Homo sapiens: one gene and its partner. The protein of the gene in region 1 purifies or fractionates together with the protein of each later gene. This does not show direct contact. Each region holds a gene or a part of one and is shown in the gene's direction. Other genes may lie near its edges. The genes, in order: PPP1R3F and ITM2B.

Region 1 (3,820 bases):
ACCAGCAGGGCAACACTGGGCAAGTTGCTTTCCTTTCAGAGCTTCAGTTTCCCTCAATGGAAATTTGGAGGGGGTTACTGTTAAGTGCTTTATAGGTACTTTTCAAATATTTCTTTGATCTGCTGAACAACTCACTGATGTAGGTATTATTATCCCCTCCTTAGAGATGAGGTAACTGAGGCACAGAGAGGTTAAGTAACTTGCCCCAGGTCACACAGCTGATAGGTGGCAGAGCTGGAATTGTTCAAAATTGCATATCCTAACCCTTTATTGAGTTGTGAAATCAATTTACTGGGTTTCAACAAGCATTAAAAAGAAAAAGGAAATAGCATAAGAAATGCCAGTGTATCACCACATGCAGTAAAGGTAAGTATTGTTTCACTCGAAGAACAACCATTTTTCAGTTATTTATATGTCTGTTTACACGTGTGGGTGTGCTGGGTTATGATGTAGAATGGATTTCTTACTATGGGTCGTGGCCAAAGAATGAAGTCATGGCTGTTGAAGAAGCTCATGGCACGAGAAACTGCTCTCCCTCTACCCCACTGGATCACCCGCAAGTCCCAGAGTTGAGGCTGACACACTTGTTGGGGAAGGCAAAGCAGTGCCCCACATAACTTGGTGGCTTTCACAGCCACCTTCAAACCCTGTTCTTTTCAGAAAGCAGATGGCTCAGGGTAACTGCAATTCTGAGTATCGTGGGGCAGGTTTCTGAAGCCACTCATCCCCCCGGAAAGTCAGCGTTATCTTCAGGTTGACTACATGGGAGCCGGGGTCTGCTGAGTTTCCCTTTGGGTTTCAGTGCCTGACCCACTTTGGGCTGGCAAAATTCTTTGAAAACATGAATGCTGGGGGTGCTCCAGAGGACTCGGGTGGTGGTGGCAATGGCAGTCTGTGACTGCTCTGAAAGTCTGCTTTGCTTTTCTCCACAGGGCTTGTCAGCCCTCACCCGCTCGCTTACTCTGTGACTGGCGAATCACCTTTCTTGGCTTTCTTGGCTGGCCTAGGCCGGGGCCAACACCACCTCTTTCCAAATCCTCACCCTCTGGTCTCCTCGGGGCCTATCAGCTTGGCAGCCATTGTGTTTCCTGATGGCCGGAGGAATTTGCACGCCCAGGAGACTGGCGTGCAGGCCTGAGATGGCCCCTTTTAGTCGACACCAGCTTGACTAGTGCTCACTAGCACCCAAATGATGCATGTCCAAGATTTTCCAGATCTGTGTGCCCTGGCCCCTATGGCTCACTGCCCTTGAGGGGATGCCACGTGGTACTTGTGGGGCTGGTGCCAAAAGAACAGGTTTCCTTCTTGAAAACGAGCAGGCATACTGCAGGTACAGTTTTGTTCTTAATCTTCTCCCTCCCCATTTTTCTAAGAACCCCTCTTCTCTGTTACCGATCAGTGAGTCAGTATACATTTGTACTTGATTTCTCTTACTATCCTCATGTTGATTGAAGTCATAGCTGCCCTTGAGTTTTTACTGTGAAAGACGGTTCAAAGATAACTTGTTTCTTTTTAAGCCCACAATTTCAAACTCTCTTCAAAGTGGAGCCCTCCTGGAGTGTTTGTTACCAGCGTGGTTGTGTAGTCAGTGAGTGTAGAGATGCAGTTCCTTGAGTTTTAGTTTTTGCATTTGTAAAAAGGAAGGGTGTTGTTTTGAAGGATAGATGTGAAGGTTTTCAAATGCCTTGGTGTGTCAATGAGAGGGGCCCATGGTGGAGGAGGTGAACAATACATGCTTGTGCTTTCTGCTTTCATATCTGACTTTGGAGAACGACTTGTTTGCTTCTGTCGATGTTGTGGATCTTGGGATTGGCTCAATGGCGTGACCTGCTTTTTGGATGTTCTCGCCCTCCTCAGCCATGGAAAGGGTGCTCTGGGGGCTGAAGGATTGATTGTGTATTTGTTTTTCTTTCTCCTTCCTCCAACTGAATTGTGGAGTCCTTTACCTGCTGGCTAGCTGATTCCTGAGTGTTCTCCTTTTTCTGTCTCACATCTATGACTGCAGTGGCTTTTAGAAGCCTGTTTGTAATATATGTCCGGACTAGGCCAGATGGAGGAGAAGGCTTGCCTGCTACTGCGCACAGGTGGGAGGGCTGGCTTTCTGTCTGTCTGTGGGCCTTCTTGAAGAGGCTTGGTTTAGAAGATCCTAGGAGGAGGATGTTTTCTGTCATGAAGGACTATGGTAACAAAAAGAAGTAAGTTAGTGCAGCCTGGCAGAAATTGTGTTGAAACAAAAGTCCAAAGACCTGGATTTTAGGACCACGGAGGGGATTGGTGTGAGACCAAGCTGGTTTGCTCTGAATCTCTCTTTCTCATCTGTGATGTGTGGGAGGTGGCAGCTGGGCTCCCAGAGTCACCCACCCTAGGCCCTGTAGTATTCTGATTCAAGTACCTCTGGTGGGATTTGTGAGTCCTAGACAGTAGAGAAAGACAGACGGTCCCTTCTAGACTCTAGATCCGTATATATGGTTCAAATGTTCTCCCCGAGGGTGTTTATAGAAAGCAGTTCTTGCAGCCATTCTGTGTCTAGTGGCCTCCTAGCCACGCATGTCCCAGGCCCATGGAGGTAGGGAAATGGGGAATGAATATGTGGGCAAAGGCAGGTCCAAAGAAAAGCCTGCATGAAGGAGGAGGGAGGGATCTTGTCTAGTATTGATGCCTCCCTCTATCTACTTCTAGAAAGGATGGAGATGGGTTGGGTAAGACCCCAGTCTCCCTCATCCAAGAAGCAGCAGCTGACTGGGTAAGAGCCAAAAGGCCTGGGTTGTGATGTGAAGTGTATGACCTTGAGCCATTTACTCAGCCTCTGTTTTATCCTCTGTAAAATGGAGACAATAGTACTGCCTGCTTCAGAGGATTACAAGTACCTGTCTCATAGGGTGATTGTGAGGATTGAATTAACACATGTTGCCCAGGCACCGTGGCTCATGCCTGTAGTACTAGGACTTCGGGAGGCTGAGATGGGAGGATCGCTTGAGTCCAGGAGTTCACGACCAGCCTGGTCAACGTAGGAAGACCCCATCTCTAAAAACAAAATACAAAAAAACAAAAACAAAAACCAAAAAACCCCAAAAACTTCTTTAAAAAAATGTGAAGCACTTAGAACAGTGTGTAATGCCATAGTAGGTACTATGTATGGGTCAGATGGTGATACTCGTTTCTGTGAAGGTAATTGGTTATGGGTTTTCAAAAAGTTTCAACCAGGCCGGGCACGGTGGCTCATGCCTGTAACCCCAGCACATTGGGAGGCCGAGGAGGGTGGATCACCTGAGGTCAGGAGTTTGAGACCAGCCTGGCCAACATGGCGAAACCCCGTCTCTATTAAAAATACAAAAATTAGCTGGCTGTGATGGTGGGTACCTGTAATCCCTGATACTTGAGAGGCTGAGGCAGGAGAATCACTTGAACCTGGGAGGCAGAGGTTGCAGTGAGCCGAGATCATGCTATTGCACTCCAGCCTGGCGACAGAACGAGACTCCATCTCAAAAAAAAAAATTTTTCAACCATTGTCAGAAGTATCAAGAATGTCACATTGCCTCTTAGGAAGAAAAAGGTGTGGGCATTCGCCCCAGCTCCTCTCAGGTTTTAGTCAATGCTTCCCTCATTTACCTTAATCTGTAGACACTTGATACTCATTTTCAGAATAAGAACAGTGACTTCTCCATGATGAGATGCCACCCCTGGGAGGACCCACCTGAAATGCACTCGGCTTATGCCACTCAGGGATCTGACTGGCCTGGTGAAGGAGGAGCAAGACCCATAAATATCTACAGTTGATTCAATCCCAGCTGTGTGTCAGGCCCTGATTTCTGGCTGTCCA
Region 2 (3,646 bases), on another chromosome or scaffold:
TATTTATTTATTTATCTAAGATAGCTCTAGTTTGCTGCTTTGCAACACATTCTGCCCCTATTGCATTGGTTTAAAAAAAAAGTACAGAAGTCAAGATGAGACTATATAAATCTTGACAAGTTGTTGGCCGTGATTGCTCTTTTGTGATGCAGGAGTGAGAATCTGGAGAATCTGGCTTAAGAGGTGGCTGAGAATTAAAATAATAGGCATGAAAATGCTTCATACAGCTCTGTACAGTTGTTGACAGTGCCTTTTTTGAAACCTATCACTGCTATATGTTAGCAAGCAAACACTGATCTTGTTTTGTAATGTGTAATTGTTCACTTCTGCTTTCCCTGTATCCCTTTTTAGATTCCACACCCATATTAGTGAGAAGCAAGAAAAAAAAATGTACACAGTGTCCTAAATGTTGTTTATCTCGAATAATAGAAGTAGGAGTGTAAAACTTAAAGGCTGATTAATAATGCAAATGAAAAGGCAAATGGATTATTGAATAGAAAAGGTCTAGATTCTATGTTTGAATGTGGTTATGAATTAATATGGGCAGAATCTCTAAGATTCTGCTAAGTGAACATTTAGTAGTTTACTAGACATCTTCTCTTCCACCTAGCAAAGAGTTTGTTGCCCAGAGTTATATAAATCCTACTCTATTGCACACTAATCTTTGCATGTTTAACTCTTTGGGACTTAGGTTCCTAGATAAGGACTTCATGTGTATCTATTTAGAAAAAGAACATTTCTTCATTTCCACAAAGCTACACAGCCATCAGTTCGTTCAATATCTTGTCCAAAGTTATTGCTAGCGTTCTTCTTTCTGAGTCTTTGTGGCTAATGCTTTTTTGAGGAAGAAGCATGATTTAGTCTCAGCTCTCTATTGATCATTTTAGGCTTTTATCTTACTGAAAAAATTAAGCACAATTTAAGATTTTTTTTGAAATATTTACTGAATTTTGAGGCCATAAATTATTTCCTGATAGCACACATGTATGGGTTGTAGATTCCACACTTTTAATCTTCCAGCCACCTATTGCAGATTGGTTCTGAGAAGCAGGATGAGTGGGAGTGGGCTTAGGGGTCAAAATTGAGACCTAAGTGGTATAAAACAAGATAATCCTAGCTTCCTCCCACTTAAAATAATTTGATGGGACTTCTGTATCTGATTTTTAAGCTTGCATTTGTGTTTATATTTTCATTGTAAAAATATCAAATAATACAGTTTTTGAAGGTAAAAAGTAAATGTTCCCGCCCTTCTACCATCCTCCTTCCTCAGTCCCATTCCCCAACAGTTTAACGTGCGATACAATAATGTGTGACACAAAATGACCTAGTTCTTGCCCTAGTGACTAAGCAGATGCAAACGCCTTCTTCTTTCCAAACAGTGTGGTCTTATCCCCGTCGCAAATGGAGGATATTTAAGAAACCCAAGCCAGAAACCCCACAGTCTTCACAGTCACTGTGTCCTCCACCTCCTAGCAGCTTCCTGCTGTTCTGCTCTAGTGGTTCTCTCTGCTTCCCCACACCCACCCGTAAGCCACAACAATCTTTCCAAAACACGAACTTGATGGTTTCATTGTCACACCCCAGCTTAAAACACTTTCCTGGCTTCCCCTGGTTCTTAGGATAAAGACCAAAATACTTAATGCTGCACAGTCCAGTCCCAACCCACTCTCCAGCTTCATCTTAATCACACCCCTCTTTGCTCCTAGTGTCCTACCACATTGCCTGACTTACTGTTTCTTGGTAAATGCTATTCTTACTTCCTGAAGATTATTTCCATCTCCTCACCCGACACCCTTCAGTTAGCTTCCACTCAACCTTCAGAATTTAGTTCAGGTGACCCTTCCTCAAGAGAAGATTTTCCTGAACCATTAGGAAAGGCTTCTCTTGTTTCTCAGTCTCATAGCATCATCTGTCTCTTTTTTGTGACTTGAATATAATTAATATTTTATATTTTGTCCTTGTTGCTTGTTTGGTTAATAGATTTCCACCACTAGACTGCTCAATACGTTAGTAGGGCACCTGACACATAGTTGCAGCTCTTATTTATTGAATGAATGAATGATTCCTTCCCGTACCACCCTAGTCTTGCCCACTGTCATTTTTATTCTGGGTATTATATTTCCCAACCAGTTGTCTGACTTTCTCCTCAGATCTCATCCCCATGGGTCTGAGTGAGTTGCCTTGAATATAAGATTCAGTGATGGTGTCCTGCTGCACTTAAGAGAAAATCCTTTTTTCAAGCCCTAAAATCCTGCCCTCACTAGACTTCTCTCACCATTTCTCTGTTTGCATCCTAGCCTTTTAGTTTTGGCCTCATATAAGCTTGCAGCCCTGCCTGAAACAGTTGTCTCTGTCCCCACTCTACCCCCTGCCCTCCACAAAGAAAAGTTAACTCTTACTCATCTTTCAGATCTCAGACTAAAAGTTTCCTCAGAGATGCCACCATAGCTCTCTATTTCTCATACCTTTCATGATACTTCATCACCTGTCTTCATGAAGTCCTCCTCTAGACTATTAGCAAAATGCTCATACTGTGTCCTCAGTATTTGGCACATAATAGGTTTTCTTGACACTGAAGGAAGGAATAAACATCTGGTAACTATAGCTAGAAAAAAAGGAAATACGGTATCTACTTCACTAAAACCAAAGGGGGTTTTTTTGGGCAGACAATCTTCATTATTCAGATGGAAATTAATGTTTGTTGAATGAATGAGCTACATTTCATGGATTAACTCCATGAAATGGAGTTCAGCTAGTAAGGGTTATACTTTGAGGCTATTTCATCTTGATGGGCTTGTTGTTCAAAGTTAGAGCCTCATTTTAAGTAAAATGTTCTGTGGGGGCCATATTAAGATTTTCATATGACAGAAGTGTATATATATCCACAAATGTTTCAAGCCAAGATTATGTCTTCTTCCATAATGCCACCTTCTTCTAGGATAGTATTTTTGGGCCAGATGGTTTTCCACATTTAAAACATACCAACATTCTTTTAAGGCCCAGTGATTATCAAAAGGGATTGGCACTACATTTTAAAATGTAGGGGGGATTTTTGATTGTCACAGGACTAGAGGATGCCATTTGTATTTAGTAGATGAGGCCAGGCAGGATGCTAAATGTCTTAAAAGTCCGGGAGTCCTGCACAAAAAATTACTGCCCTTCTTGATTTGCCAATTATGCCCCTGCTGGGAAGCATGAAAGGAGAGAGAAGAGCTTTCAGAATGTCAGGGATAAATATATCCATTAAGCCTTCAGACTAAGATGCAGGAATAGTTTTCCATTTGGGTATGAATACGGCAAGTTCTTAGAACATTTCTTAAAACATAATTAGCCAAATACTAGTGTAACAGCTACAACTTATCTAGTTTTAATCAACTCCAGGGAACATTACACTTTATTTAACCCCTAATTATCTGATAACCCAAGTTCTGTCAGAAACACTGCTGAGGCATCCAGGAAGATGAGCCTGTGAAATTTGAGAATCCTTCATGTCTCTGGAATGAGTCCCTAGATTCTAGCCCTGCAGCTAGCTGACACTCTAAAAAATTATGAGTGCCTTCCTTTAGCTCCCCATAGAAATGTCTTTGTATAACCATGGCATGATATTATTCTCTTGACTTTTGTTGAGGATTGATAGAAATAAAAA

The links.
Region 2: the proteins of PPP1R3F (region 1) and ITM2B purify together in Homo sapiens (co-immunoprecipitation; one large-scale study listed by IntAct). This does not show direct contact.

What each region holds. Positions count from the first base shown.
Region 1 is NC_000023.11:49,276,199-49,280,018, forward strand, and holds part of PPP1R3F (protein phosphatase 1 regulatory subunit 3F), read left to right. Parts: exon of another isoform or gene 1-1,196; coding exon of another isoform or gene 1,197-1,330; intron 1,331-3,820.
Region 2 is NC_000013.11:48,263,962-48,267,607, forward strand, and holds part of ITM2B (integral membrane protein 2B), read left to right. Parts: 3' UTR 1-3,646. UniProt on the Homo sapiens protein: Plays a regulatory role in the processing of the amyloid-beta A4 precursor protein (APP) and acts as an inhibitor of the amyloid-beta peptide aggregation and fibrils deposition. Plays a role in the induction of neurite outgrowth.